7 linked regions of the Homo sapiens genome follow. The protein of the gene in region 5 interacts with the protein of the main gene of each other region in a pairwise test. Each region holds a gene or a part of one and is shown on either strand. Other genes may lie near its edges.

Region 1 (3,544 bases), on a different chromosome or scaffold from region 5:
ACAAACCGCTCAAGGGGCCCCGTCTTTCAACTCCTGGGTTCCACCCTCTCCCTAATTCAGAAAATGATAGAATCTCACCCAGCCAGATCTCCCACCTGACTCCATGTTTAATGGCCTACAAGTGTCTCCCTCGACCCTCAGACAAGCTCTTCCCAAGACAAGGGACCTTTTACTTTTAGCACTCCAGTGCATGATGTGCTGGTATTAGTGATGGCAGATGAGCTGGTATTGCTAATAACCATTATCTCACCCGTCCACACATCCATCCACCCACTTACCCATCCACCCACTCATCTACCCCTCCATCTATCACCCAATCATCTACCCACTATCCATCCATTCTTGGTCTGCCTGGTTCTGGGGTCTGTCATCCTCTAGATGCTTTGCCTCAGCCTTGGTATCAATGAACTGGCATTTATGTCATATGCCACAGCCCCTGCAGGCAAGAATATTTCTCCTTGCCCTGATTGTCTGTTGGTTGCCAGCCCTTCCCTTCTCTGATCACAGAGAAGCTGGAAGCCTGCAAACTACATTTGCTAGAGCCCTTACCAGTGGGCTTCCAATTTGTTTCTGCTGGTAGGAAGCACTGATCAATCAGAAGGCAGTAAAGTTCCTGGATCTGGGGGTTTTTTTAGTGGTGGCAACAGCAGGCATGCACACCTGGGTCTTGTTCAGCCATCAACTTTCTACCAGGAGTACCCTAGCAGCCCTGTGATCCCCAGACGCTTCTGGGTGACACCTGTTCCTCCAGCCTCCATGTAAAAGCAGCTTCCTGCACTTACTTACCAATATTTTGGCAATCTCACCTCCACTCTCACTCCTCTCATCCTTCCAACAGTTTTCATAACCAGTCCCCTGCATTAAATCCACTCTGAAGTGCCTGGGCAATTTCCATTTTCCTGACTCTTCACTGACTGGTAATGTCCTTGGTAGCAGGAATGACTTCCTAGAAATAGAGCCTTAATGCTGGAAATCGGGGACTGGTTATCTGCCTGGATTGGGCTGGAACGCAGTAATGACCTCACTGTCAGAGGGGATGTGGTACCCTGGAAAGTCACAGCATTCAGTGGCAAAACTAGTCCTCACAATATCACCTATGTTAAGTGCCTGGCGTGAAGTGTCTCTTGAAGGCAAAGTTTGAGAGACCAAATGGCTGCAGCCCTTCATGTCATGGGGACAGCTGGAGAGACTGGTGGCTTCTGACTACACTGGAGTCAGAAGTGATAAACCCAGCTCAAAACATGGACAGAAAACCAGAGAGCATCTTTGATAACCAGAAAAGAATCTCTTTAATATCTTGTAGCCGTAAGACTGATACAACTGAAAACATAACCCTAAATTTGATTCTGCAGGTTGCAGTTACAACACAAGTTGAAGTCACAGCCTTGCCGGAACTCTTATGTAAAGTTTAGGGCATTGGATCTGGAAGGAGTGGGACCCTGAGAATCGTAAAGGGATATTTGGGTGGACTTGAGCAAATCCAAGAACCCTGAACTGAGGAAGAGCAGTGTGAGTACATGGTCAGGGGCTCCATGAATATTCCTGCCTGCAACCCCAGCTTCACAGGCAATTCAGCCTTCTCCACACTGGCCCGGCACTGGCTAGCTGCTCACCTTATGGCTCGAGGCAGGACCCCCCCGCAGCCTTGCAGCTGAGTGGGAAGTTGCTGGAAGTTGTATCTGTTTATTGCTTTTAAGGCTGTCATGAGCAGACATAAGACCTCATATCACACAAGCTTGATGCCACCAAGAGGACGGGAGCTGGGCTGGGTCCTGAGCCCTTCTAGCGGTGTGGCTTTGGCTTGTGACCCCCGACTCAGCCTCAGTATCATCTATCAAATAGGCCTAATAATGGGCATGTCCCGGGACTGCTGTGAAAACGAAGTGGAGTAAGATTGCAACGGGGCCTGGTGAGGTGGCTCACGCCTGTAATCCCAACACTTTGGGAGGCCGAGGTGGGCGGATCATTTGAGGTCAGGTGTTCAAGACCAGCCTGGCCAACATGGTGAAACCCCGTCTCTACTAAAAATACAAAAATTAGCCAGGCATGGTGGTGGGCACCTGTAATTCCAGCTACTCGGGAAGCTGAGGCAGGAGAATTGCTTGACCCGGGAGGTGGAGGTTGCAGTGAGCTGAGATCGCACCTCTGCACTCCAGCCTGGGCGACAGAGCAAGACTCCCATCTCAAAAAAAAGATTGCAACAGGCCTGGCAATTTATCTTTCATTCTGAGTAGCCATGTAACCCCTAGTGGTAACTAGGAGAAATTGTCCTCCAGCAGTCTGTCCCCTCCCTCAGTAGCTGGGGCGGAATGAGATATGGCCCTGGGCCTGGTGCAAGATTTTCACTTGTTTTGGAAGCATTAGCCACAGCTTTTCCTTGATGGGCATGTGTTATCATGAGGCTGGGCCTCACCTCCCTGCATTGGACCAGAAATTCTAAAGGAAGCAACTTCTTATGGCACAGCGGATCTCATGCATGGCATCACTGCCCCTTCCCTAGGAGACCGCACAAAGCCACTCAGCTTCATAGCTGGGCTGTGGCCTCAGAGGCTTTTGTGCCTGGAGGTGGCAGGGAACTGTGGTGTGGGGGCTGGGCCAGCCGGGAAGGTAGAGCCGCCCAGACTGGGGTCTGGGTTCCTGAAGTCACTGTTATCCTGCAGGGAGACCTCAGCCAAGCCCCAGTGACACGCAGGGTCTCGCTCTCCACGCTGAAGGCTGTGCTGAGGGCTGAGCAAAAAGAGGCCAGACACCAGGGAGGGAAGCCCGCCTCCCCCTCCCCACCTCGACCTCCACACCAGTTAAGGCTGACCGGCAGGTTGCTGTGGGGGAAGCGACAGCGTGCAGACAGCACTGCATGCCAGGCCACACCTTTTATGGAAATGTTCCTCTGAGACCTGTTGATGAGCTTGGAGAATGAGGAAGGGGACGGTCCAGCGGCCAGCTGGGTCCACACCCTGCCGCCGGCCCTGAGGAGGGAAGGCACGAGTCACTGCCTATTTTGACCCGGCAAGAAATACAAACCCACAGGGTGAGGCGGGCAGAAAAGCAGCTCTGTGGGAGACCTGCAGGCCCCTGAGCATCCCCTGCCCCAGTCAGGTTCTCGCCCAGGTGCATAAACCGGCCCCATGTGGCGGCATCCTTACCAAGGACCCCCAGGTGACCGGACAGGAGGGGTGAGGCTAGGCTGCCAGGCAGACAGGGTAGCACCAGATGGGATGGGCTGGGGGCTCCAGGGCACGGTGTCTGTGGCAACCCAACCTGGGAAGATGTTATTGCTCTGCTGGAGACCTTGGGCCAGGCCCCGCGAAGCCCTGCCTAGCCCCTTGGCGTGGGTTAGCGGTGCTTTAAGGCAGCCCGAGGCGAGGAGGCCAGGTCATACCTGCGGGAGCTTGATGAGGCCTCATGAGAAAGCCCTAGTCTCAGTTCCTGGGCCCGGGGCCTCTGCAGGCCTCCACCACCCCATGCTGCCTAGTTCAAGTATTTGTTGTGGGCTGGCCAGATCAAGAGTCACCTGCTAGAACACAGGGGTAGGAATCTTAGGTGG
Region 2 (4,523 bases), on a different chromosome or scaffold from region 5:
GGTGCTTTATACTGAAATAATGTAACCACTTTTCTTTGTAGTAATGAACCTTTTAATTTTAAAGGTAATTCTTCCTTGGGGACTTACTTAGTGCAATTCTAAGTTTTTTCCATATATTAAAGATGATTTAAAGTTGACATAGGGCAGATTTACAGTACACATAAGAGTCATAAAATGAAATGGAGAAAATATTCCAAGTCTTGATTTATGATTGAACCCTTCATAAGAATAATTAATTTACAACATTTTCTACCAGAATTTCCTTGAGACTATAGTTGAAAGAACTAGACTACAATAGATAGTATTGCTTAGTTGAGTACCAAATTTTATTAATGCAGATAATCCAGCTAGTTTAATTTTGATTTAAAACCTTTTTCCTGTCATCCCAACAGCTGTATTTTTACCTATGTGTACAGACATGTTTCATCTCTAGGGTTAATGGAAGTTTTACTATTTTAACGGTTTCTTCCCTCCTTAAAATTCTCTATCCTAGTTATCAGGCAAAAAATGTTTTGGGGCATGCTATTTATCCAGTCTAATAAAGCTAACTGGTAATATTCATCACCTAAAGAGTGATGAATTTAACACAAACAAATTAAACGAATTATTGGGGAGGCAGTCTTTTCTTTTGTTCAGAATTCATAAGGTTTGTGTTGTTAGCATGGTGTATTTTTAAAAGAATGATAAAAATAATCATGTTTAAAGAAATAAATTTACTTTAATGGTACTTTCAAAAAGACTAATCCATAACAAATTAAGTTATACTGTATTTCCTTTGCTACCCAGAACCACAGGGCTGGTTGTCAACACATATTGAAGAAATGTAAGCAAAATACAGAAAGTGATGATTTTCAAAAGGAAGAGAAGAAACTCCTTTTCAACAAACACTTTATATCATTTATTAATGCAGTATACATTAGATCTAAAATCTGCAGTTTCTAAGCACACCATGTTTAGATCTTTCAGATCCTTCTGCAGTTTTAGGTTATTTCTACAGAGGTACCTTTAAGTGAATGAATACCACATTCTGTAATTCCTGAAAATATAGTACAGAGTGAAATGATTTAAATATAATTTAGGCACATATTGATTATGAAAATAGATTATCTCTCAATACAATACTTCTCTGTCTTGGTAAAAATAATAAAGCAAAGAAAATAATTCATTTCTGAAGTTGCTTTCCTTCACTTGTAAAGGTCTGATCTCCTCCCACTATGCATATGTACCCTTTACTGTTAAGGAAAGCTTTGCATATGTAGATATAGAAGAATAAGCTACGTAAATACTAAAGATATGTCATTCTCCCAAAGGAGACACAGGTGGTTTTCAATGATTCCTTGCCTCATGTTGATGAGTCTGTAGAATTCAGAACCCATTTGGACACAGCTAATATCCCTGCTCTTGGGGTAGAAAATAAGGACACCAAGTCATTGGTAGGGAGGTACAGGCCCTTCCTCTGCTGCTGCAGAGAGAGAATGACTCAAGAAAATTGGGCTAAAATTTGTTTAAAAAAAAAAAACCACAAAAAAATAAGTAAAAGAATCACAGGTGCTGACTGATTGATAATTACATCTTGGACCAGCCAAATGCCTTTATTTTTACGTCTATTTTTTTGGTGGCTGTAATCAAATGTGTGTTTAAAATTCCTCATTCCCCACTGTAGGGTTCTAGCTGCAATTATATTACATTGCCTTTTAGCAGGCAACTCTACCATATTCACTCATATAAGCTTTGATTGCAGTAGCTCTGGATTTAGTATCTATTTCTAAGCTGGCCCTATGTAAACTATTTGGTATTTGAATTAAATGAATATTAATGATGCACCTTGGTTTTTTTGGTTTTGAAGTATCTTCCTATGCTTGTGATGACTGTATGAGAAAACTAGGCTAATAGTGTAAATAGATAGAATTGCTTGATCTGGTGTTGAGTGGAACTTGCCTAGAATGAAATTCTGAGAAATTCTCATTTGTAAGTGTTGTAGTGATAGGTAAGTTATTCCTCCATCCAGAGTTACACTGTACCTTTGGAATGACAGTGATGTACAATGATGTCTTTCTTTCCACTCTGTCTCAATCAGTAAGAACTGGATATTACTTTAATTTAGCTACTGTTCTGTCCTAAAAAGTAAACATTATAAAAATGAACCTGAAAAGAGTCTTAGGGAGTCTGATCTCACCATATTCATACGGTGTGACAGGTATTTAAAGAGGGGAGGCATCACTAAAGCTATTTATAAACCTGAACAACCTTTTCCAAGTTTTCATAAAGTTTTAACAATTTAAATATCCATACTGCATCTAGGAATTCAATAAATATAATTGCATATGTTGTGCTTTCCATAAATTAAAATCCTCAAATGCATCTCAAACCAAGATGGTATTTCCACATCATGCCTATTTAAAAGCAAATATAATAGATACTATGCCTGGTCATAAAACCAGGTAAACCCCCCTACCCCATTCAAAAGGCAGCAATATCTAGTTTCCCTACATCTATTAAATGAGTGCTTTTCTGTTAAAAATCAGAATATGGAAAAAAAGTCAGTTTTTTCCCTTATGCACCACTCAAAACAAGCATAATCCTCTAAATGTTTTTTTTTTAAATTTCCTTACAGTGTTATTTCTTCTAGACAACTGAGTGGGTGGAGAAAGAAAAGTGATAAGGAAAACATTTTCATCTTTTACATCTTCCTCCAGCCCCTAAAATTCTCATCTGACACTTTGTGACATGTGTAGTGGTGTCAGCATCTCTTCAAATATAGCTCCCTTCACGTTGGACCCTCTCAGGTTGGCTTCTTGAAGATCACACCCAGACAGATCACAATTCTGCAAGATGAAAACAATATTCATGTAATTCATGTGGAAATTTCAGGCCTTATCTATTTCTGCTCAAAATGATTTCTGGGGCAGATTAGGAAAATGTTCTTATACAATAAAACTCAGTTAATTTCCGGAAAACTGATGATACACCACCCTAAATTAAGATGTTCTTCTATCTTTATTTGTTACCTCTAGTTCAGGCTGATCACCATAAATATGTATAAACAAAGGTTAAAGAGGAAGCATGTCCCTTGTTCTTGCATATTTTATAAGGAGACATTGAAAACAGGGGTCCCCAACCCCTGGGCCACAGACTGATACTGGTCCATGGCCTGTTAAGAATCAGGCCACACAGCAGGAGGTCACCAGTAGATGAAGCTTCATCTGTATTTACAGCCAGTCCCTGTATGGCTCAAGTTACAGCCTGAGCTCCACCTCCTGTCAGATCAGCAGGGGCATTAGATTCGCACAGGAGCGTGAACCCTATTGTGAACTGCACATGTGAGGGATCTAGGTGGGGTACTCCTCATGAGAATCTAATGCCTGATGATCTGTCACTGTCTCCAACACCCCCAGATGGGACTGTCTAGTTGCAAGAAAACAAACTCAGGGCTCCCACTGATTCTACATTATGGTGAGTTATATAATTATTTCATTATGTATTACAATGTAATACTAGTAGAAATAAAGTGCACAATAAATGTAACGCGCTTGAATCATCCCAAAACCAGCCCCCGACTCTGATCTGTGAAAATATTTTCTTCCACAAAACCAGTCCCTGGTGCCAAAAAGGTTGGGGACCACTGATTTAAAATACAGAATGGATTCCAACATAATAAATACACACACACACACACACACACACACACACACACAATTTTTTTTTTGAAACGGAGTTTTGCTCTTGTTGCCCAGGCTGGAGTGCAATCTCGGCTCACTGCAACCTCCACCTCCAGGATTCGAGCTATTCTCCTGCCTCAGCTTCCAGAGTAGCTGGGGTTACAGGCACTCACCACCACGCCTGGCTAATTTTTTCTATTTTTAGTAGAGACGGGGTTTCACCATGTTGGCCAGGCTGGTCTCAAACTCCTAACCTCAAGTGATTCGCCCACCTTGGCCTCCCAAAATGCTGGGGTTACAGGCATGAGCCACTGCGCCTGGCCCCAAAGTAATAAATATTATCAAAACAATTTTACTATGATCCAAGAACAACAACAACAAAAGGAATGAGATGGGGGGAAGACTTTTTTTTTAATCTGAAAAGATTTTACTTAATCAAATTGTGTAATAGATTTTTCCATTCCCTAGCCCTAGTATTTTTATAGCAAGGAACTGCCCTTCTTTTTAAAGCCCCAAAGGTACGTATATAATACAGTGAGTTTGACAGATGTACAGAACAGTGTAACCACCGCAATTTGAAGCTATTTCTTAATTTGTCTTGAGATCACGGAGCAATAAGATAGAGATTCCACTTAAGTCCCTGGATATGATAGGGGACAATGGTTAGAGAGAAGGGTGACTAAACGTAACCTGTTAGGAGAACAAATGTCAGCAGCTCTCCCCTCAATAGTCAACCTGATCAGTCTTTGCAATCAGAGAGAGGGAGGCTTTTGCTGCTAGGCCACACTGAGTACACAGTACTAAAACCAAGGAAAAAAATATAATCTTAGGTGAAAGTAATGTAACAAACAATAAATAATTGTG
Region 3 (4,523 bases), about 44 Mb from region 5:
AGCTGAGATGGAGCCATTGCACTCCAGTCTGGGCAACAAGAGCGAAACTCCGTCTCAAAAAAAAAAAAGGGGGGGGTTTTCTGACGCACGGCCCTTTGCACAAGCAATTCTTATTCCCTGGCATGCCTTCTGCTCTCTGTCCCCTCTTTGCCTGGAGAAGTTCAATTTTTCTTCTGAACACTCTTTACTTTGTATTTTGAGACAGGGTCTTGCTCTGTCACCAGTGCTGGAGTGGAGTGGTGTGATCATAGCCCGACATCCTGGGCTGAAGCCATCCTCCCAACTCAGCCTCCTGAGTAGCTGGGACTGCAAGCGCATGCCACCACAGATGGCTAATTTTTACTTTTTTTTTGAGACGAGTCTTGCCCTGTCGCCCAGGCTGGAGTGCGGTGGCGCGATCTCAGCTTACTGCGAGCTCCACCTCCCGGGTTCACACCATTCTCCTGCCTCAGCCTCCCGAGTAGCTGGGACTAAAGGTGCCCGCCACCATGCCCGGCTAATTTTTAAAAACATTTTTTTAGTAGAGATGGGGTTTCACCGTGTTAGCCAGGATGGTCTCTCTCTCCTGACCTCATGATCCACCTGCCTCGGCCTCCCAAAGTGCTGGGATTACAGGCGTGAGCCACTGCGCCTGGCCAATTTTTATTTATTTTTTGTAGGGACAAGGTCTCGATTTGTTGCCTAGGCTGGTGTCAAACTCCTGGCCTTAGGAGATCCTCTGGCCTTGGCCTTCCAAAGTGCTGGGATTACAGGTGTGACCCACTACACCCAGCTGGACACCCTTTCTAATCCCTAGCTAAAATCTGGGTTCCTAGATTTATGATCCTATGTGACCTCATACTTCCCCCTCAGCATCATTTATTGAAATCTGAAGGCAGGATGCGGTGGCTCACACCTGTAATCTTAGCACTTTGGGAGGCCAAGGTGGGAGAATGACCTGAGGTCAGGAGTTCAAGACTAGCCTGGCCAACATGGTGAAACCCCGTCTCTACTAAAAATATAAAAATTAGCCAGGCATGGTGGCGGACGCCTGATATCCAGGTACTCAGGAGGCTGAGGCAGAAGAATTGCTTGAACCCGGGAGCCGGAGGTTGCAGTGAGCTGAGATTTTGCCACTGCACTCCAGCCTGGATGACAGAGCGAGATTCCATCTCAAAAAAAAAAAAGAAAAATTTGTAATTTGTGTATATGTGTGTGTGGTGGCATTCCACAAGCATAGGAGCTATGCCAACTGTATCTCCTAGTGACTAGTATAAGACGTGGGTAGAAGTGCTCAAAAAACACACTTTGTGTATTTTTTTTATCAAGGCACCAGCAAAAAACAAAAAACAAAAAATCACACACGCGGCTGGGCGCGGTGGCTCATGCCTGTAAACCCAGCACTTTGGGAGGCTGAGGCGGGTGGATCACGAGGTCAAGAGATGGAGACCATCCTGGCCAACTGGTGAAACCCCGTCTCTACTAAAAATACAAAAATTAGCTGGGCGTGGTGGTGTGCACCTGTAGTCACAGCTACTCAGGAGGCTGAGGCAGAAGAATCACTTGAACCCAGGAGGCGGAGGTTGCAGTGAGCCAAGATCACGCCACTGCACTCCAGCCTGGGCGACATTGCAAGACTCTGTCTCAAAAAAAAAAAAAAAAAAAATTTGTAGATAGGAGGCTGAGGCGGGTGGATCACCTAAGGTCAGGAGTTCGAAACCAGCCTGACCAACATGGTGAAACCCCGCTTGTACTAAAAATACAAAAATTAGCCGGGCATGTTGCCACATGCCTGTAATCCCATCTACTTGGGAGACTGAGGCAGGAGAATCGCTTGAGCTTGTGAGGTGGAGGTTGCAGTGAGCCGAGATTGCACCATTGCACTCCAGCCTGGACAACAAGAGGGAAACGCCATCGCAAAAAGAAAAAAAATTTTTTTTTGTACAGACAAGTTATTGGTTGTCCAGACTGGTCACAAACTCCTGACCTCAAAAAACCCTCCAGCCTCAAGCCTCCCAAGATGCTGGGATGACAGGCATGAGCCAGGGCACCTGGCCTGATTCTTAGTTGCTTCCTTCTGTTCTCTTATTCCTCCCTTCCTCTCATCTTCCTACTTCTGTCGTCTTTTTCTTTTTGTCTCTCAAGGGTAGAGATTGAGTCTGTCCCTCTGTCTGCAACCAGCACAGGGCTTGGCACAGGGCCCTCCCAGCAGATTTTGCAGGAGGAATGCCTCCCACTCCGCCCTAGCATCCTGTCTTTGCAGGTTGGGCATCTGCCGGCTGGGCTCTGCCGCCTGTGAGGGTCTTTCTGTGGTGCTCCAGGCCAACCACAACCTCCGGGAGCTGGACTTGAGTTTCAACGACCTGGGAGACTGGGGCCTGTGGTTGCTGGCTGAGGGGCTGCAACATCCCGCCTGCAGACTCCAGAAACTGTGGTGAGCATCGGGGAGTGACGGGGTGGCAGTGGTCACGTTTGGACAGTGGAAGCGCCTTCTCATCCTTCATTTTTCTATTTATGAACTATCCTGCTTCACTACAAAAGATTCAGGTAGCAAGAAGAGAGGTGGAAAGAAAAGACAGGAAGTCTCTCTGAACTTATTCTGATTTGGGGGTGCTACCCGACTTAAAATTTTAAAAACTTAAGGCCAGGCGCGATGGCGCATGCCTGTAATCCCAGCACTTTGGGAAGCCGAGGTGGGTGGATCACCTGAGGTCAGGAGTTCAAGACCAGCCTAACACGGTGAAACCCTGTCTCTACTAAATACAAAAAAAATAGCCGGGCCTGGTGGCACATGCCTGTAATCCGAGCTACTTGGGAGGCTGAGACAGGAGAATCGCTTGTACCTGGGAAGTAGAGGTTTCAGTGAGCCGAGATCATGCCATTGCACTCCAGCCTGGGCAACAAGAGTGAAACTCTGTCTCAAAAAAAAAAAAAATTAAAATTTAAAAATTACAAAAGAGGCTGGGCACGGTAGCTTAATGCCTGCAATCCCAGCACTTTGGGAGGCCGAGGCGGGTGGATCACCTGAGGTCAGGAGTTCGAGACCAGCCTGGCCAAAACGGTGAAACACCATTCTACAAAAATACAAAAATTAACCCAGTGTGGTGGCGCATGCCTGTAATCCCAGCTACTCGGGAGGTTGAGGCAGGAGAATGACTTGAACCTGGGAGGCGAGATTACAGTGAGCTGAGATCATGCCACTGCCCTCCAGCCTGGGTGATAGAGCAAGACTCTGTCTCAAAAATAATAATTCAGGCCGGGCACAGTGGCTCATGCCTGTAATCCCAGCACTTTGGGAGTCCAAGGCGGACAGATCATGAGGTCAGGAGTTTGAGACCAGCCTGGCCAACATGGCCATCTCTATTAAGAATACAAAAATTAGCCTGGCGTGGTGGTGGGTGTCTGTAATCCCAGCTACACAGGAGGCTGAGGCAGGAGAATCACTTGAACCCAGGAGGTGGAGGTTGCAGTGAGCGGAGATCACACCATTGCACTCCAGCCTAGGTGCCAGAGAAAGACTCCATCTCGAGAAAAAAAAATAATAATTCAATCTGGTGCTCTGTAAATTCCAATCAAATGTTAATTGTGACTTTCTCCCTCACCTTTCTGCCAGGCCAGCTGTAGCCCTAATCTGAAGGACTTAGAATGGGATGAGGCATCATCTAGTTTATTTGGGATTTTTTTTTTTTTTAAAACAGGGTCTCCCTGTCACCCTGGAGTGCAGTGGCACGATCTTGGCTCACTGCAACCTCCACCTCCCGGGTTCAAGCAATTCCTGCCTCAGCCTCCCGAGTAGCTGGGATTACAGGCATGCGCCACCACCCCGGCTAATTTTGTATTTTTAGTAGAGACGGGGTTTCTCATGTTGGTCAGGCTGGTCTTGAACTCCCGACCTCAGGTGATCTGCCTGCCTCGGCCTCCCAAAGTGCTGGAATTACAGGCGTGAGCCACCACGCCCGGCCTAACCCAGATAATTTTTTAAAATGTTTCAGAGGCTGGGCGTAGTGGCTCACGCCTATAATCCCAGCACTTTGGGAGGCCAAGGTTGGTGGATCACTTGAGGTCAGGAGTTTGAGACCAGTCTGGCCAACATGGTGAAATCCCCTCTCCACTAAAGATATAAAAATTACGGCCGGGCACAGTGGCTCATGCCTGTAATCCCAGCACTTTGGGAGGCTGAGGCGGGCGGATCACGAGGTCAAGAGATTGAGACCATTCTGGCCAACAAGGTGAAACCCTCTCTCTACTAATACAACAATTAGTTGGGTGTGGTGGCTCTCGCCTGTAGTCCCAGCTGCTGGGGAGGCTGAGGCAGGAGAATCACTTGAACCCGGGAGGCAGAGGTTGCAGTGAGCCGAGATCATGCCACAGCACTCCAGCATGGGCAACAGAGGGAGACTCCATCTCAAACAAAACAAAAATAAAAGGATACAAAAATTAGCCATGCTAATTGGTGGTGGTGCACACCTGTAATCCCAGCTACTCAGGAGGCTGAGGCAGGAGAATCGCTTGAACCTGGGAGGCGGAGGTTGCAGTGAACAGAA
Region 4 (4,523 bases), on a different chromosome or scaffold from region 5:
CTGGCTGCGCTATTGAGTGAATTCCAGTTGTTCCACGAAAGTAGATATGAGGCCCCTACATCAAGTTGTATCTGCCTCTGATTTGGACATTGAATTGGGTTGAAGAGCTTTCAGCCCAACTCAGGAGCCCAGGGTGAATGAGGCAGCTCCCAAAGACTGATGGTGCCCTTCTTCCTTCCTGATCCTCAGTTCAGAAGTTTATCAATGAAGACCGACTGCCACACTTGCTTCTCTACGGTCCCCCAGGGACAGGCAAGACATCTACCATCCTAGCCTGTGCGAAACAGCTATATAAAGACAAAGAATTTGGCTCCATGGTCTTGGAGGTAAATAAGATTGTTCTTACTCTACAAATAACTTAAGAGACTCCAGTCTCTTAATTTCAGTTCTGCTGGTTTTATTTTACTTTAAAAGTAAGTTGCCCCACGGACAGTTAGGAAAGAAGTAAATTTGAATATTTTAATTCCCTTTTTCCTATAATGGTCATTTTGGTCTGGATTAGCGTTGGTCAGCTAGAGGGCAGTTGTAGGGTTTGGCACCTTTTTCTTTGCTCTTGCCAACTTCTCCCCAAACCTTACTTTATGGTGACTTGGTTGCTGCCTGTCTGCCATGGCCCCTCTAGATCAATTCTCCACGTTTCTCCACCATATTCCTGCCTGGAAGGCTGAGCCCTACTGACTATAAGCTCACTTACCCTCTGGCTCCTGGTTGGGTTTGGCCAATAGGGGCCTTGGCAGGGGTGGGGGAAGGAAGTGAGTGATGCCTGGGCCTTCCCTGGGGGCTGACACAGGCTGGCAGCATGGCCCACCTGTAGGGTACATCTCACAGGTGGTACCTTTCCTGCAGCCCTCTCCAGGTGCCTACAGCCACTCCCTTCACTAAGCCCTTCAGGCTCAAGGGTGACAGGTATTGCATAGCCCCATGGTTTTCCTATATCACACCTTTAAAAAGATCTTGTTTAATTCTCTTCAAATTGCTGCATTTGAGTATGCCATCTGTATATTGCTGGGACCTTGACTAATATACTTAGATTCAAAAATCTGAGTATTGTCTATTGCAAGAAAAGTTTAACTTACTTTTTAGACGCAGGTCTCAGAACTTTGCTGCTACTAATGTCCTTATTTCAGTTTATTAAGAACTTGGTAACTTAGGATTGTGGTAGCTGAAATTTGTATCATTCTGCTCATACCAGAGGTGCTGTTCAGTGTAACCATACCAATTAATTATTTCTCCAATTTATGTCAGTCATTGTCCTCAAAGGGTGGGGGTAATATAGCCATCTTTATTAATTTAGTGAATTTTGTGTAAAACTGATTTTTTATTTTATGATGATCTCTTAGCCATCATTAGACATAGAGAGCTAGCCTGCTGAGCTGGACTGATGAGGAAATACACTAACACCAAGAACTCACAGATAGCACAGCAACATGGTTTTTGTTTTGTCTTCTGTCTTCCACATTTAGCTGAATGCTTCAGATGACCGAGGAATAGACATCATTCGAGGACCGATCCTGAGCTTTGCTAGCACAAGGACAATATTTAAGTAAGAATTATTTGTGTAATTTCGCTCCCTTGATTTTGATTAGTAAGATGATATGGGTTAATTTTTTAATCCTCTCCTTAGCCAGTTTATATGGGTTGAAAAAAAAAGTGACTTTGTCCAAAGCAACCATGGAAAAGAGATAAACGAGAGGGATGGTAGTAAGAAGCGTTATAATGCAACTGTTAAAATAAAATGTTATCTACGCTTGTATTAGCAAGTTTGTTTTTTTTTTCTTTTTTTTTTGGAGACAGGGTCGCCCTGTATCGTACAGGCTGGAGTGCAGTAGCATGATCTCGGCTCACTGCAACCTCCACCTCCTGGGTTCAAGCGATCTTCCAGCCTCAGCCTCCTAAGTAGCTGGGACTACAGTCGTGAGCCATCACGCCCAACTAATTTTTGTATTTTTTAGTAGACATGGGGTTTTGCCATGTTGCCTAGGCTGGTCTCGAACTCCTGAGCTCAAGCAATCTGCCCGCCGCAGCCTCCCAAACTGCTGGGATTACATACGTGAGCCCAGCCTGCATTACCAAGTTCTTTAGGGAGCATTAACTTCATTTTTAGTTCCTGAGAACTGGCTAGATTACCCTAAGACTGGATGAGCTAGTTTGAATTTAAAAATAAATTGAGATCAGGAAGGACAACTAGGATGGTGGCTAAAAAAAAAAAAAGAAAGAAAGAAAAAGGGTGAGGGCCGGGCGCAGTGGCTCACACCTGTAATCCTAGGACTTTGGGAGGCCTAGGCAGGTGGATCACCTGAGATCAAGGGTTCAAGACCAGCATGGCCAACATAGTGAAACCTCGTCTCTACTAAAAATACAAAAATTATCTGGGCATGGTGGTGGGCGCCTGTAATCCCAGCCACTCAGGAGGCTGAGGCAGGAGAATCGCTTGAACCCAGGAGGCAGAGGTTGCAGCGAGCCAAGATCGCGGCACTGCACTCCAGCCTGGGCAACAGAGCAAAAACTTAGTCTCAAAAAAAGCAAAAGGGTGAGGGACTCAGGCATGAGTGAGGGAGACGGGAAAAGCAGTAGCATGGTAGGGTGCCATGTGGAGGAAAGTGAAGATGCCAGAGGACACAGCGCACAGAAGTAGAGAAGTCTCCTCCATTCCCACCAAGGGTTGAAGGAGTGATGCGGCATTTCCTCTCTGAGTGACCAAAGATGTCTGCCTTGGCCAAAGTTCTAGAAGAAATTGTCTTTCTGAGACAGGGCCCGATGGCACAATGGGAAGATATAGGTTTGAGCCCAGATGTTGAGATGAGATTGAAGAAATCTTTAGACAGCACCATTTGTTTTTCTAGGAAAGGCTTTAAGCTAGTGATCTTGGATGAAGCAGACGCCATGACTCAGGACGCCCAGAATGCCTTGAGAAGAGGTAAGCAGAGGCACTGTGGAGCGTTTGGGCTGGTGTGCACACTGGAAGGAGAATTAGGAACTTTGTGTTTGTTGCTGTTGTCATTGTTTTTTTAGGCGGGGGGGAGTTTTTTTTTCTTTTTTTGAGTCAGAGTCTTGCTCTGTCACCCAGGTTGGAGTGCAGTGGCGCAATCTTGGCTCACTGCAGCCTCTGCCTCCTGGGTTCAAGCGATTCTCTGACCTCAGCCTCTTGAGTAGCTGGGATTACAGGCATGCACCACCACACCCGGCTGATTTTTATATTTTTAGTAGAGATGGGGTTTCACCATGTTGGCCAGGCTGGTCTCGACCTCCTGACCTTGGGTGATCCGCCCGCCTCGGCTTCCCAAAGTGCTGGGATTACAGGAGAATTAGGAACTTTAAGCTTCCCAAAGTGCTGGGATTACAGGAGAATTAGGATGTGAGATATGGCTTGGCTTGTTTTCAGTTTTCATCTTCTGGCCCAGAGAAATCTCTATGCCTTTCTCTGTGTCTCCCATCTAATGACACAGGCTAGATACCTCTGTAGCGGGACTTCCCCTTCAGCAGCCTAGGGACTAAGCCCTGCGGGGACTTTTAAGTCTGGCCAGTCACTGGTGTTCAACCTCCTTTGACACTGGGTTCAATTTCAGAGTTGGGAATTCATATCTTTCCGTGGGATGGGGTGTGGAAAATCTTTCATCCTTAAGCTATCAGATAGTCCTTCTGCTAATAGTACCCTCTCCTTTCTACTAATGGTACCCTTTGAACCACAATGGCTAGGAAAAGCATATCTGAAGTTGAGGTGCTCAGAGAGCTGATATTACTTCACTGCTTGCCAAGTGAATGATTTGGCAGCGGGAGGGACAGCACCCTGCGATTTGTCTGTCTTCAGGGGCCTAGCGCAGTTCTTTTCTCTTAAAGGACACTTGTCATCTCTCATTAAGATTCCAAGTGAATCAGCTTTGAGAGAAGAACGATCTTTAGGAGTTTGTGGCGAGGGAGTAGATGGCAGCACATGTTAAGAGAAGGATGGGGGAAGGGGGAGGAGGAGGAGGGGGGAGGAGGGGAGGAAGAGGAGGGGGTGAGGAGGAGGAGGGGGAGGAGAAGGCGGAGGAGGAGGGTAGGGGGAGGTGGAGGAGGAGAGGTGGGGGAGGAGGAGGAGGAGGAGGACAGCGAGAATATCTTCTGGTCCTAGAAGCTTGGCAGCCTTTCTTCGGCATCTTGTTCTGCCGAGTGACTGTCATTCTGGGCAGATCCCCATGTGAGAACATTGGGTACCTACAGAATGGAACCGGTGTCATAAGCAACTCTTTGTTCGGGTTATTGCTCCCTTGAGTGCTCTAAGGCCTCCAGACAGTCTCCATGGAAAAGTCTGCAAAAAGCCGCCCTCCCTGCCCATAGAAGGTGAAGTGTCATCAACCTGCCAAATATAATTTTATGTAAAAGGACAAGAAGTCTCATAGTCTTAATGGGATTACATGGCAAAAGTGCCAGAATCATGGCAAATGGTAAAAAGGAAGCATTTTGTAAAATCCCACGGAGGCATGTTTACCAGTTTGTGAAAGAGGGGTGGCTAGGCAGGGCGCAGTGGCTCACACCTGTAATCC
Region 5 (4,523 bases):
ATTTTCTTTTTTTTTTTTTTTTGAGATGGAGTCTCACTCCATCGCCCAGGCTGGAGTGCAGTGGCATGATCTCTGCTCACTGCAACCTCTGCTTCCTGGGTTCAAGTGATTCACTTGCCTCAGCCTCCCAAGTAGCTGGGATTACAGGTGCCCACCACACCTGGCTAAATTTTTTGTATTTTCAGTAGAGACAAGGTTTCACCATGTTGGCCAGGGTGGTCTCAAACTCCTGACCTCAAGTGATCCACCCACCTCAGCCTCTCAAAATGCTGGGATTACAGGAATTAAGTAATTTTCATGCAGCTTCTTCTCTCCAGAGTGAGTTCATTCATGTCTTTAAAGTGAACTGGAACAAATGAGAGCTTTCCCACATTTATTACATGGACAGTTTCTCACTAGTGAATTTGTTCATGTCTTCGAAGTGAACGGGGATGACTGTAAGCTTTCCCGCATTGCTGACATTTATAGGGTTTCTCTTCTGTGTGAGTTTTTTCATGAATTCTAAAGGAACTGGAACACGTGAAGGCTTTCCCACACTCCTTGCATTCATAGGGTTTCTCTCCAGTGTGAGTCCTTTCATGTATTTGAAATGAACTGGAATGACTGAAGGCCTTTCCACATTGTTTACACTCATAGGGTTTTTCTCCAGTGTGGATTCGCATGTGAATTTTAAGGTGGGTGGAATAGTTAAAAGCCTTCCCACATTCCTTACAGGTGTATGGTTTCTGGGCACTGTGCGTTCGCATGTGATTATTAAGACATGAGGGATACCCAAATACTTTCCCACATATCTTACACTCACAGGCCTTCTCTTCAGTGTGAGTTCTCAAATGTCCACTAAGATTTGAGGAAACTGCAAAGGCTTTCCCACATTCAACACATACAAAAGGCTTCTCTCCAGTGTGAGTTCTTATATGTTGAATAAGGCGTGAGGATGTAAGGAAGGATTTCCCACATTCCTTACATTCATAGGGCTTGTCTCCACTGTGAGATCGTACATGCATACTAAGGCCCGAGTACTGAGTGAAGGCTTTCCCACATTCCTTACATACATAGGGTTTCTCTCCAGTGTGAGTTCTTCCATGTATCTGAAATGAGTTGGAATAATTGAAGGCTTTCCCACATTCCTTACATTCATATGGTTTCTCCCCAGTGTGGGTTCGCATGTGAATACTGAGGTAGGCTGGGTATCTATAGCCTTTTCCACATTCCTTACATTTGTAGGGCTTTTTTGCATTGAGGGTTTCTATAAGCACAGAAAGGCTTGTAGAGTCAATAAAACCTGGCCCATAATTCCTCCATTCGTAGAGTTTTTCTCCATTGTGAGTTCTCATATGTGCCTGAAGGTATGACTCATTAATGAAGGATTTTCCACAGTGACTACATTCAAATGACTTTTCTTGTGTGCTAGTTCTCTGGTATACAATATTTGGTGTCAGGCTGAAGATTTTTTCACTCTGATTAAACTCAGAAAGTTTCTCACCAGTAGAGGTTTTCTCACACAGGGTAAGGAAATCTTTTCCATACTGATTACAGTCATGAGTGTTCCCTGTACTTTGAGTTCTCACGTGCGTCTTAAGGCATGAGTGTTCACTGAAGACTTCTCCACATTGCTCACAGTCACAGAGTTCCCTTCCATTGTGTTTTCCTTCCTGTTGAAGGGATGATGATGATTTAAGGATTTTTCTCAAACATATTAACAGAACATACCCATCTGAAGCTAGAAACATTATAATGGTGATTATAATTGATGCCATTTTTATTACATGCATTCAGGTCCTTCCCTGTAGATTTATTTTAAGTGGTATGACTTAACTCTTATTCTAGAATGTTGTGCCATCTACTTTAATCTTGGCTAGGCATGGTGTCTCATGCCTGTAATCCCAGCACTTTGGGAGTCCGATGGGGGGCAGATCACCTGAGGTCAGGAGTTCAAGACCAGCATGGCCAACATGGTGAAACCCTGTCTCTACTAAAAATACAAAAATTAGCTGGGCTTGGTGGCACATGCCTGTAATCCCAGCTACTTGGGAGGCTGAGACACAAGAATCGCTTGAACCTGGGAGGCGGAGGTTGCAGTGACCCAAGATCACACCACTGCACTCTAGCCTGGGCAACAAAGCGAGACTCCGTCTCAAAATAATAATAATAATAATAATAACAGATTTCTGTAGAATTCAATGTCTAGATGGGTGCAGTAGCTCACATTTGTAATCCCAGCATTTTGGGAGGCAAAGGTGGGTGGATCATTTGAACCCAGGAATTAGAGACCAGCCTGGGCAACATGGCAAAACTCCATCTCTATAAAAAATATCAAAAAATTAGCTGGGCATGGTGGTGTGTTCCTGTAGTCCCAACCACATAGGAGGCTGAGGTGGGAGGATCACTTGAGCCAAGGGGTCAAGGCTTCAGTGAGCCATGTTTGTGCCACTGCAATCCAGCCTGGGTGACACAGCAAGACCTTGTCTCGACCAAAAAAAAAAAATTCATAGTCTAAGCCAGATGTGGTGGCTCATGCCTGTACTCCCAGCACTTTTGTAAACTGAGGCAGAGGATCACTTGAGCACAGGAGTTTGAGACTAGCCTGGGAAACACAGTAAGACCCTGTCTCCACAAAATTTTGAAGAATTAGCTGGGTGTGGTGGTGCATGCCTGTAGTCCCAGCTACCAAGGGAGGCTGAGGTGGGAGGATCGCCTGAGCCCAGGAGGTCAAGACTATACTGAGCCATGATTGCACCACTGCACTCCAGCCTGGGTGACAGAGCAGTATCTCGTTTCAAAAAAACACCAAAACAAAACTCAACGTCTAGTTACACTTGTGGGAATGTGTGAAAGCTCCAAAGAAACAAGTTTCACAATTGGAGCATCCCTAAATTCTTTGCTCCCTCTCATGTGTATGCAACTTCTCTCAAATATCTCTTATTTTTGCTGACTTCCCATAACAGAATTCCTGATTTTCTCTGAGGGTGGAAAATAAAAAATATCCTATGCAAATCTTACCAATTGTATCCCAATGGATGTCTGACCCCTCAAAAAGTCCTGCTGAAGTATAGACCACTGGGTTTCAAGTCGCATTTCCCATCCTGAAATAAAACAGACAAACAAATAAAAGGACTCAAGCTAGGCACAGTGGCTCATGCCTGTAATCCCAGCACTTTGGGAGGCTAAGGCAGGTGGATCACTTGAGGTCAGGAGTTTGAGACCAGCCTGGCCAACATGGCAAAACCCCACCTCTACTAAAAATTCAAAAGCTAGCTGGGTGTGGTGGTGAGCACCTGCAATCCCAGCTACTCACGGGGCTCAGGCTGGAGAATCTCTTGAATCCAGGAGGCAGAGGTTGTAAGGAGCTCAGATCACACCACTGCACTCCAGCCTTGGCAACAAACAGAGTGAACCACAACAAGAACAAATGAAAGGATTTGGAGAAAGAAATGCAAAGAGTTCAAAACAATATGGCTTATTTCTATTTGTTTCAAATTAAACATGGCAAGAAAAAGCAGAAAGACATTTGGGGATTTGGGCTATATCAAAAATTTGGTTTTGATGTAAATGATCCAAAGGGGGAAAAATTGGCCAAGACAAGGACATGGGGTAAAACTTTTCGATCGTTTATTACAAATTGATGCTATGAAAATTAAAACTGATAGTGAATAGAGAGAATCAGGGAATGAAAGTAGGAAATTTCTGAAAAAAGAGCGTATATCTAAACAATTAACTTGGCCGGGCACGGTGGCTCATGCCTTTAATCCCAGCACTTTGGGAGGCCGAGGCAGGCAGATCACGAGGTCAGGATATTGAGATTATCCTGGCTAACACGGTGAAACCCCGTCTCTACTAAAGATATAAAAAAATTAGCCAGGCATGGTGGCAGGCACCTGTAGTCCCAGCTACTTGGGAGGCTGAGGCAGGAGAACGGCATAAACCCGGGAGGTGGAGCTTGCAGTGAGCTGAGATTGCACCATTGCACTCCAGCCTGGGCGACAGAGCAAGACTCCATCTCAAAAAACAAAACAAACAAACAAAAGCCACAATTAACTTAAAGAAATGTTCTAAGACCCCAGGTGGATGCCTGAATCATGGCTAGTTCTGAACCCTGTACATACTATGATTCTTCGATCTGGTAACTGAGATGACCGCTACGTGACTCACAGGTGGTGTACACAGTGTAGATACATTGGACAAAAGGATGATTCACACCCCAGGCAGGATGACATAAGGGTTCATCATACTACTGAGAATGGTGAGAAATTTAAAACTTATGTTTTGTTTATTTCTGGAAATTTTTCTTTTTTTCTTTTTTTTTTTTTTTTTTTTGTGGGGTGGGGGTCAGTGGCCAGGGTCTCACTCTATCACCCAGGCTGGAGTACAGTGGTGCAATCACATCTCACCACAGCCTTGACCTCCTAGTCTCAATCCATCCTCACAGCTCAGTCTCCTGAGTTACTGGGACAGCAGGTGCGTCCCACCACCCTCGGCTAATTTTTGTATTTTTTGTAGAAACAAGGTTCTCGGTATGTTGCCCA
Region 6 (4,523 bases), on a different chromosome or scaffold from region 5:
CAATTCTTCACCCCTAACTATTTCAGTATGTATTTCCTAAGAACAAGGACATTGACTTATATAACCACAATACAATTATCATATTCATGGCATTTATCACATTGATCCAATATTATTATCTAATATTGTCCCATATCCAAATGTTTCAGTTATCTAAGTAATGATCTTTGTAGTACATTCCATCCCCTTCCCAATTCAAGAGCATTGGTTGCATCTGAAATAATGTATCTTTAGCCTCCTTTAATCTGAAACAGTTCCTCAGCCTCTCTGTGTCTTTCATAACATTGACATTTTTAGGTAGAAGCTATTTGTTTCATAGAAGATACTTCTGTTTGGGTTTATCTGATTGTTTCCTCATGTTTAGATTCAAGTTATGCATTTGACAGGAGTATTTCCTTTCTAAGAAAAAGAGAAACCAAATAGAATAAACTCAATTTTATTCATTTGAAGGCAGTATTAGATATTCCTTTGATGAGGAAGAAAAATTCATCTTCAAGTTCCAAATCTAAAAATCAAATATACCCATATTTCAGAATTTCATCAGAGATATTAAAAAATTTAGCTAAGTTGTATTTGAGTCCCAGAAAGCCAAATATATACTATTTACCTAATTGTTATATTAATATTTGAGTAAGTACTATATTTAGGCTACTACAGTAGACCCAGGACTCTGTTTTGTTATAAACACTGATATTCAGTCACAAATATGGATAAACAGGGTTTCAAGATGATTCTTTAGAAATGTTCAGTCAGTAATTACAGCTTGATGAGTATGAAATTGTAAACTATCAAAGATACCACAGTAGGTAAATATTAAAGACATAATACATTCTAAAAAGTGGGTGAGGCTGAGCGCAGTGGCTCATGCTTGTAATCCTAGCACTTTGGGAGCTGAGGTGGGTGGATCACCTGAGGTCAGGGGTTCAAGACCAGCCTGGTCAACATGGGGAAACCCCGTCTCTACTAAAAATACAAACGTTAGAGTTTCTGTTTGGGATGATTAAAAGTTCTGGAGATGGATGACCATGATGTTTGCACAAAAATGTAAATGTACTCAATGTCATTGAATTGTACACTTAAAAGTGTTTAAAATGGTAAATGTTATATATATTTTACCACAATAAATAAAATATAGACTGGAAAAAAAATAAATAAAAATAAAAATAAAAATACAAACATTAGCTGGGCCTGGTGGCGGGCACCTGTAATCCCAGCTACTCAGGAGGCTGAGGCAGGAAAATCACTTTAACCTGCCGGGTGGAGGTCCAGTGAGCCGAGATCGCACCACTTCACTCCAGCCTGGGTGAAAGGGTGAAACTCCATCTCAAAAAAAAAAAAAAAATGGGTGAGGGATTTCGATCGAAGCTGTGGAATCTGCTCCAGATCTCAGGTTGCTACTATAGCATCTTGGGTAGATCACTCTTCTCCAGTAAGCCCTGGGCTTTCTCAAACCTTTTCTGTACAGGAAGCCTGTCCCTTCTGCCATCCTGGTCAACTCTGCCTACCAAATTCCTGCCCATCTTTGAAAGCGAAACCCTAACCTAGGCTCCCCTCCTTTGGGAAACTTCCCAAGGCCTCCCTCCATGCTACATGATCATCTTTTTTTTTTTTTTTTTTAAGACGGAGTCTCGCTCTGTCGCCCAGGCTGGAGTGCAGTGGCGCGATCTCGGCTCACTGCAACCTCAGCCTCCCGGGTTCACACCATTCTTCTGCCTCAGCCTCCCGAGTAGCTGGGACTACAGGTGCCCGCCACCACGCCCGGCTAATTCTTGGTATTTTTAATACAGATGGGGTTTCACCATATTAGCCAGGATGGTCTCGATCTCCTGACCTCGTGATCCACCCACCTCAGCCTCCCAAAGTGCTGGGATTACAGGTGTGAGCCACTGCGCTCGGCCGATCATCTCTTTTTACAGACTAGACATCCTTAATCACAAGTATCTTTTTTTTTTTTTTTTTTTTTTTTAAGACAGAGTCTCGCTCTTGTCGCCCAGGCTGGAGTGCAGTGGTGCAATATTGGCTCACTGCAACCTCCGTCTTCCAGGTTCAAGCTATTCTCTTGCCTCAGCCTCCTGAATAGCTGGGATTTCAGGTGCATGCCACCACACCCAGCTAATTTTTGTATTTTTAGCAGAGATGGGGTTTCACCATGTTGGCCAGGCTGGTCTCTCAATCCTAACCTTTGGTGATCCACCCGCCTCGGCCCCCAAAGTGCTGGGATTACAGGCGTGGGCCACCGCACCCAGCCAATCACAAGTATCTTTATAGGACATCTTTATTTTTTACAGAAAATAAAGTACTAGCAGAGTACTTGGCCTTCAGTCGTTATTTCTTTAGCCCATTAGTAATGAATAAAGAGGTTTCGCTAGCAAGAATGAAAGAAAGGACTAAGAGAAGCTCTACTATTTTCTGAAAGGTGATAAAACATACAATCAGATAAATTTCCTTTTAAAAAGACTTTCAAATAAATCTTTAGAACCTGCAAACCCTCCCACAAAGAAAATGTAAACACTGAAAGGTAGGAGGCAATTTTACTTTATATTTCTAGTATCACCACAGCTTTTCATTCAAACAAACATTGCCATGAAGTTAGGGAAATTCCTGCTGCATTCACTTGTTACTTTTTTTTTTTTTTTCAGTAATCAAGTTGAAGAAACACTTCCACTACTTAAAAAGGTACCTGCAAATTACTTTCACATTTGTTCAGCTATCCTAATGGGATTTTCACTTAGTAAATCTGCTACTCAGGTATCTGCTATACATATGGATTCAAAAGTGGATGATCACTTAATACGAGGGACTGAAAAAAGCAGGTTGGAACCAGCGACTCAGTTATTTCAAAACACCAAGAAAATAAGATTAGAAGACACAAATCAAGAAAACTTTACAAGGATTGAAGGGACTGGCACAGGATCTCTTTCTGGGAAAGCCTTGGGTTCAGTGGTATATGTCAAAGAAAGTGATGGACTAGAAATGACAGATGTGGAATGAAGCAATTTGTACGTATTACCAAAGAAACCAAAAACTGCCTTTGACTAAGGGGGGTGTTGAAAGAGAACTTAACCTTATTAGGAAACCCTGACAAAATGATGGAAGACTATTGCCTTATTTTGCACTATTTGTGAATCATCTTACACTGCATTTTTTTATGATGCTTATTCAAAAGGCAGTTGCTTTAGGGTGAAAAAGCCTTCCAAGATTCAAAGCAGATTTCTCTGGTATTATATTATATCCTTCTTAAAAACCAGAGTTTTTAAGTAACAGTATTTGAATGGCATCAAAACATTTTCATTTTAATGTATTTCTTTAACAAGTGGTTAAAAAAAGTGTCCAAGCAGCCGGGCGCAGTGGCTCACACCTGTAATCCCAGCACTTTGGGAGGCCAAGGCGGGTCAATCACCTGAGGTCAGGAGTTCGCAACCAGCCTGGCCAATATGGTGAGACCCCATCTCTACTAAAAATGCAAAAAGTTAGCCAGGCATGGTGGTGGGCACCTGTGATCCCAGCTACCTGGGAGGCTGAGGAAGGAGAATCGCTTGAACCCTGGAGGCGGAGGCTGCACTGAGCTGAGGTCATGCCATTGTACTCCAGCCTGGGCAACAAGAGCAAAACTCCGTCTCAAAAAAAAAAAAAAAAAAAAAAAAGTCCAAGCAATGTGACATCCGTATTTCACAATATTTCTGGTGTATCAGTTTTGTATGTTACATTTCCATTTTGGGATTCTGCTTTATGATACTTTACTTTCTTACATTTTGCATTTTTGTTCTGTAAAAGATCACTGCCAATAAACTGCAAAAGACCAATAAATTGCATATCTTCAGAAGGATTTCACATTTTAAATCGTGCCTTTAAAACTGCTTTTTCCCCCCACATAGAATCCATTTTAGAGTTAGAAAAGTGTTCTTTCCAAGTGTTAATAGTTTGTCTTGCAGATGGTACCATTTTATGTCACCAATATTTAATATGAGAAAAAACAACCTGTTTAAAAACCTTGTTTTGTATATCAGTTATGAAAATATCTGGTAGTTGGAAATCTCTTTAATATTCATTTTAAAAGAGGAAAGGGCATCTTTTCCGGGGGGAAGCTATATTTTATTAATCAGAAAAATACTAAACAAATGTGTTTGTAGGGAATATTGAGAGTGAAAAACAATTGTTGAATGGGACATAAGCCAAAAAGACAATGCTTTTTATTATTTACAGAACGTAATTCTTTAGAAGAGAAAAAAAATACATAAATCATTCATTTGTTCACCTAGCCTGGCACTGTGCTTGGTGCTGGAGATACAGTAGTGAATAAAATAGCCAGTGCCTTGTAGAGTTTTGTGCCTGTCTACTAGGAAAGACAGGAGATTATACAGTAATTATATAAGATGCAAATTGTGATATGCCATGAAGAAACGTATAGCATTCAGAGGGACATAACACAACACAAGACATACCACATAAAACTGATTTTTTTTAAGATGGTCTCACTCTGTTGCCCAGGCTGGAGTGCAGTGGAGCGATCATAGCTCAGTGCA
Region 7 (4,523 bases), on a different chromosome or scaffold from region 5:
AATCCCAGCACTTTGGGAGGCCGAGGTGGGCAGATCATAAAGTTAGGAGTTCAAGAGCAGCCTGGCCAATATCATGAAACCCTGTCTCTACTAAAAATACAAAAAACCAGCCATGCATGGTGGCATGCGCCTGTGGTACCAGCTACTTGGGAGGCTGAGGCAGGAGAATTGCTTGAACCCAGGAGGCGGAGGTTGCAGTAAGCTGAGATCATGACACTGCACTCACTCCAGCCTGGGTGACAGAGCGAGACTCCATCTCAAAAAAAAAAAAAAAAAAAAAAAACAGCCTGGGATCTGCAATCTGACAGATGATGGCTTAACATCCCAGCTCAATCCATTGAAAAGCTGTGAGGCTTTGAAAAAATTGCCTATTCTGATGCCCAGTGTCTTCATTGGTAAATGGCGATTTTATTTTATTTTATTTATTTATTTTTTGAGATGCAGTTTCGCTCTTGTTGCCCAGGCTGGAGTACAATGGTGTGATCTCGGCTCAATGCGACCTCTGCCTCCCCGTTTCAAATGATTCTTCCGCCTCAGCCTCCCAAGTAGCTGGGATTACAGGCATGTGCCACCACACCCAGCTAATTTTGTATATTTAGTAGAGACGGGGTTTCTCCATGTTGGTCAGGCTGGTCTCGAACTCCTGACCTCTGGTGATCCACCCGCCTCAGCCTCCCAAAAGTGCTGGGATTACAGGCATGAGCCACCACACCCGGCCGGCCGGTAAATGGGGATTTTAAACCCTACTTGCACAGGATAGTTACAGGGTTAAATAAGACAGCATTTGTAAAGCATGGCACAGGCACACAGCAGGTGCTCAAAAATGTCAGTGTTTGCTCAGCCCTCCCCGTCTTCAACCTAACCAAATCCAGCCTATGTCATTTTTCTAAGGAATCCAAACCTTTCCTCCTTTTTAAGGCATTTTCCTGGCTGCTCCTCCTCTACAAAAGGGAAATGCTATGTCCTGGGATATATAAATAGGGGAAAGTAGGCTGGGTGCAGTGACTCACACCTGTAATTTCAATGCTTTGGGAGGCCAAGGAGGGAGGATCACTTGAGGCCAGGAGTTCAAAACCAGCATGGGCAACACAGCAAAACTCCATCTCTACAAAAAAGTAAAAATTAGCTGGGCGTAGTGGCACAAGCCTGTTGTCCTAGCTACTTGGGAGACTGCAGTGAGCTATGATCCTACTACTGCCCTCCAGCCTGGGCAACAGAGCTAGACCCCATTTTAATCAGTCAATGTAATTTCTGGTCAGAGGAAGATTTTTAGATCCCAAGTGAACTGAATGGTACACATCACCCCTGAAAGGCTTTTTACCCAAGATCTCTCTCAAAATACATTTCTCCGTTTTTCTTATTTTATTTTACTTTTTTTTTTTTAGAGACAGGCTCTTGCTCTGTCGCCCAGGCTGGACTGCAGTGCCATGGTCATAGCTCACTGGAGGCTCAAACTCTGGTGCTCAAAGTAGCTCAAGCGATCCTCCTGCCTCAGCCTGCTGAGTCACTAGGACTACAAGCGGGCATAAAGAGCAAAAATTAGCTATTTTTGGTTTTTGTTTATTGTTTTTTTGTAGAAATGAGGTCTTGCCACGTTGCCCAGGCTGGTCTCAAATTCCTGGCCTCAAGCAGTTCTTCACCTCCACCTCCTAAAGTGCTGGGATTACAGGCGTGAAGCACTGCACCCAGCTTCTCAGTCTCTCTTGATTTAATGTTATTCACCATGGGAAGTAAAAATCTAGAAACAGCAGCAGGAAGAAGGTACAGAAGGCTACTTGGCGAGACCAGACATCAATCAGGATCAATTTGTAAGACCAAGACACTGCAGGCCCCCCACCGGCCCTTCTTGAGCTCATGCCTCCTTTGGTTAAAACTCTTAGTAAAAAGGTATAGCTGCTCTTTCATTATTCTTATTCTTTATTCTTTTTTTTTTTTTTTTTTTTTTTTGAGATGGAATCTTGCTCTGTTGCCCAGGCTGGAGTGCAGTGGTGCAATCTCAGCTCACTGCAACCTCTGCCTCCCAGGTTTAAGCGATTCTCCTGCCTCTGCCTCCGGAGTAGCTGAGATTACAGGCGCCCGCCATCATGCTCAGCTAATTTTTCTATTTTTAGTAGAGATGGAGTTGCACCATGTTGGCCAGGCTGGTCTTGAACTCCTGACCTCAGGTGATCCACCTGCCTTGGCCTCCCAAAGTGCTGGGATTACAGGCGTGAGCCAGTGCACCTGGCCTAAAAATAATTTGTTTAAAAAGCTTCCTGGTGAAAAAAACAATGGACCATGCAGGGGCAGGTGTGAGTTGGAAAGATAGGACCTGATCCTTCCCCAGGGTGACAGCCACAAATCTGCTCTGCTCCTCTGCTGCCTAGAGGAGGCTGAAACCCAATAGGCTCAAAGTTACACAGCAATGAAGGTGAGATGGGACCACCAACCCACATCTGTGTCCTCCCCTGCCCAGGGGACCAGTCCCAGGCACCAGGCATTGTGTAGCATCTTGTTGTCATTGCGTGGCACATCTTGTGATGTTTCTTGTCTTAATCCAGTTACAAACAAGGAGGCAGGGGCTCAGAGGGGCCCTAACAACTTGTCCAAAGTCACAAAGCGATGTGGCCCAGATCTGACTCCCAAATTATGGGGCCCTGTATATATCCTCAGTAAATGGTAAATTCAAGGAAAAGTCAAATGTCCCTAAATGTCCTCCTTTGAGAGGAAAATAACTAAGAGTAACCTAAAGCCATAAGCCTTGCCTATGAGGAGAGGGCTATACCGTTTTGCCTACAGAATTTTAGAAAGATTCCTGATTTTACCTCTTACCTTCGTAATTTGTCCAGCCAGTGGCCTAGGAATTCCCCAAGCAAATGGGTGTCAGCCAAAAACATGGCTTTGAGCACAGGCTCACGTGTGGTCTGTTCACCATCAGAGGCTGTGGTTTTCACTTCAGGCCAATTACACTGAAAGATCGCTAAGTAATAGATTAAAAATTCACAAAATAGAAGCACAGCAAAGACAACAGCTATGAGTTTCAACAGCAATGAACTCTTCCTCTTTAATGGATGAAAATTCTGTCTTCCAAACCCCAATTCGATCATCGCCATTTCTCAAGCAACAACAAATCCATCAAGGGTTCACCACGAGAAAACTGCAGAGCCCTGGGGAGGGTGATGGCATTCAGGTCTTAGCTGGGCACCTACGGGAAAAGGAAAAGAATTCAGTTATGTTCCCTAATAATACAGGTATCACGACCTCCCTCTATTAAGAACTAATGAGTTACATAATCCTATCTACATTTCCAAATTAATCGTCTTATACTTTTACAATAATAATATGCCAGATTACTAATAAGGAAAACAACTGACCTCTCTGACTCCTTCAAGCTCTCCATACCTCCGTATGTCAGAATAAAGCTATTAGAATGCTTTTCTCACCAAGATGATAAAGTTTCATTAATATTCTAGAAATCATCAAATGGGAATCCATGAGAATGATGTGTGTCAAGGTAGGAGACATAATGGGAAAATTCAGTATTATTTAAGTGTAATTTTGACTCCCAGGATTCCCCACCACCCCTCCTTGACCTTAAAAATCAACAGGTCACAAGCCGCCTGTAATGTGTTGCTTTTGGTGTTAATTCATCACTTTTCTACTCTGCTTTTCCACAAAATAAGTGAATATTCATGGACAATGTGCTTCAAAGATCCAAGGAATTCATTCCACATTGGACCCAGAGGCCAGGATCTGACAGTGAAACCACCTTTGCAAAATTATAACAGTAACAGAAATCTGACATAGTTGACTCCATCTTGTTTCTGACTGCCAAGATGTCCTTGGTCATTCCTGGATATAGGCCAAGCTAACTTTGGGAGAAATTTGGTTTATAGGTTTTTGTTTGTTTGTTTTGTTTTGTTTTGTTTTGTTTTTGAAATGGGGTCTCCCCTGTCACCCAGGCTGGAGTGCAGTGGTGTGATCTGGGCTCACTGCAACCTCCGCCTCCTGGGTTCAAGTGATTCTCATGCCTCGGCCTCCCAAGTAGCTGGGATTGCAGGCACTCGTCACCACGTCCAGCTAATTTTTGTATTTTTTTTAGCAGAGACGGTTTTTCGCCATGTTGGCCAGGCTAGTCTCAAACTCCTGACCTCAAATGAACCACCTGCCTCAACCTCCCAAAGTGCTGGGATTACAGGCGTGAGCCACTTTGCCAGGCCAGTTTATAGTTTAACTTTGAAGCAAGGATGATGATAATAGTCTACTCCCTGTTCTGAGGCTGAAACCACCTTTGAAAACTAATGAAAGGTATCGAGATTAGGATTAGGGGAGGGGCTTGAATTCTGCTGAATGTAGTTTCTATAATCCCTAAATGCTCAGGAGTCATGAGGCCAGAGGTAACAAAGATTTGTGACTTCCTTCAATTTCTCCTATAAATAACATCACTATTGTAGATCCTAAGATTGGTCTTTTGACATATTTTTCAGACTTTCGGGCAACTGATTTACCCTACCTGACTGACCCTGCTGGGACCCATATTTCAT

The links.
Region 1: the proteins of ZNF426 (region 5) and NATD1 interact in binary tests that used the Homo sapiens proteins (3 or more experiments, as listed by UniProt).
Region 2: the proteins of ZNF426 (region 5) and KCTD9 interact in binary tests that used the Homo sapiens proteins (3 or more experiments, as listed by UniProt).
Region 3: the proteins of ZNF426 (region 5) and NLRP12 interact in a two-hybrid assay, tested with the Homo sapiens proteins (one large-scale study listed by IntAct).
Region 4: the proteins of ZNF426 (region 5) and RFC5 interact in binary tests that used the Homo sapiens proteins (3 or more experiments, as listed by UniProt).
Region 6: the proteins of ZNF426 (region 5) and TSGA10 interact in binary tests that used the Homo sapiens proteins (3 or more experiments, as listed by UniProt).
Region 7: the proteins of ZNF426 (region 5) and MPPE1 interact in binary tests that used the Homo sapiens proteins (3 or more experiments, as listed by UniProt).

What each region holds. Positions count from the first base shown.
Region 1 is NC_000017.11:21,237,605-21,241,148, forward strand, and holds the end of NATD1 (protein NATD1), read right to left. Parts: 3' UTR 1,266-3,544; downstream 1-1,265.
Region 2 is NC_000008.11:25,427,149-25,431,671, forward strand, and holds the end of KCTD9 (BTB/POZ domain-containing protein KCTD9), read right to left. Parts: intron 2,826-4,523; coding exon 2,709-2,825; 3' UTR 699-2,708; downstream 1-698. UniProt on the Homo sapiens protein: Substrate-specific adapter of a BCR (BTB-CUL3-RBX1) E3 ubiquitin-protein ligase complex, which mediates the ubiquitination of target proteins, leading to their degradation by the proteasome.
Region 3 is NC_000019.10:53,796,133-53,800,655, reverse strand, and holds part of NLRP12 (NACHT, LRR and PYD domains-containing protein 12), read left to right. Parts: intron 1-2,124; coding exon of another isoform or gene 2,125-2,242; coding exon 2,243-2,413; intron 2,414-4,523. UniProt on the Homo sapiens protein: Plays an essential role as an potent mitigator of inflammation. Primarily expressed in dendritic cells and macrophages, inhibits both canonical and non-canonical NF-kappa-B and ERK activation pathways.
Region 4 is NC_000012.12:118,019,443-118,023,965, forward strand, and holds part of RFC5 (replication factor C subunit 5), read left to right. Parts: intron 1-189; coding exon 190-326; intron 327-1,463; coding exon 1,464-1,543; intron 1,544-2,843; coding exon 2,844-2,917; intron 2,918-4,523. UniProt on the Homo sapiens protein: Subunit of the replication factor C (RFC) complex which acts during elongation of primed DNA templates by DNA polymerases delta and epsilon, and is necessary for ATP-dependent loading of proliferating cell nuclear antigen (PCNA) onto primed DNA.
Region 5 is NC_000019.10:9,527,985-9,532,507, forward strand, and holds part of ZNF426 (zinc finger protein 426), read right to left. Parts: intron 3,084-4,523; coding exon 3,001-3,083; intron 1,653-3,000; coding exon 396-1,652; 3' UTR 1-395. UniProt on the Homo sapiens protein: May be involved in transcriptional regulation.
Region 6 is NC_000002.12:99,147,844-99,152,366, forward strand, and holds part of TSGA10 (testis-specific gene 10 protein), read right to left. Parts: intron 3,827-4,523; exon of another isoform or gene 2,992-3,826; coding exon of another isoform or gene 2,716-2,991; exon of another isoform or gene 2,640-2,715; intron 506-2,639; exon of another isoform or gene 421-505; intron 1-420. Other genes in the region: uncharacterized protein C2orf15, read left to right, coding at 2,716-2,991. UniProt on the Homo sapiens protein: Plays a role in spermatogenesis. When overexpressed, prevents nuclear localization of HIF1A.
Region 7 is NC_000018.10:11,894,173-11,898,695, forward strand, and holds part of MPPE1 (metallophosphoesterase 1), read right to left. Parts: intron 3,449-4,523; exon of another isoform or gene 3,354-3,448; intron 3,185-3,353; 5' UTR 3,093-3,184; coding exon 2,812-3,092; intron 1,106-2,811; exon of another isoform or gene 1,013-1,105; intron 1-1,012.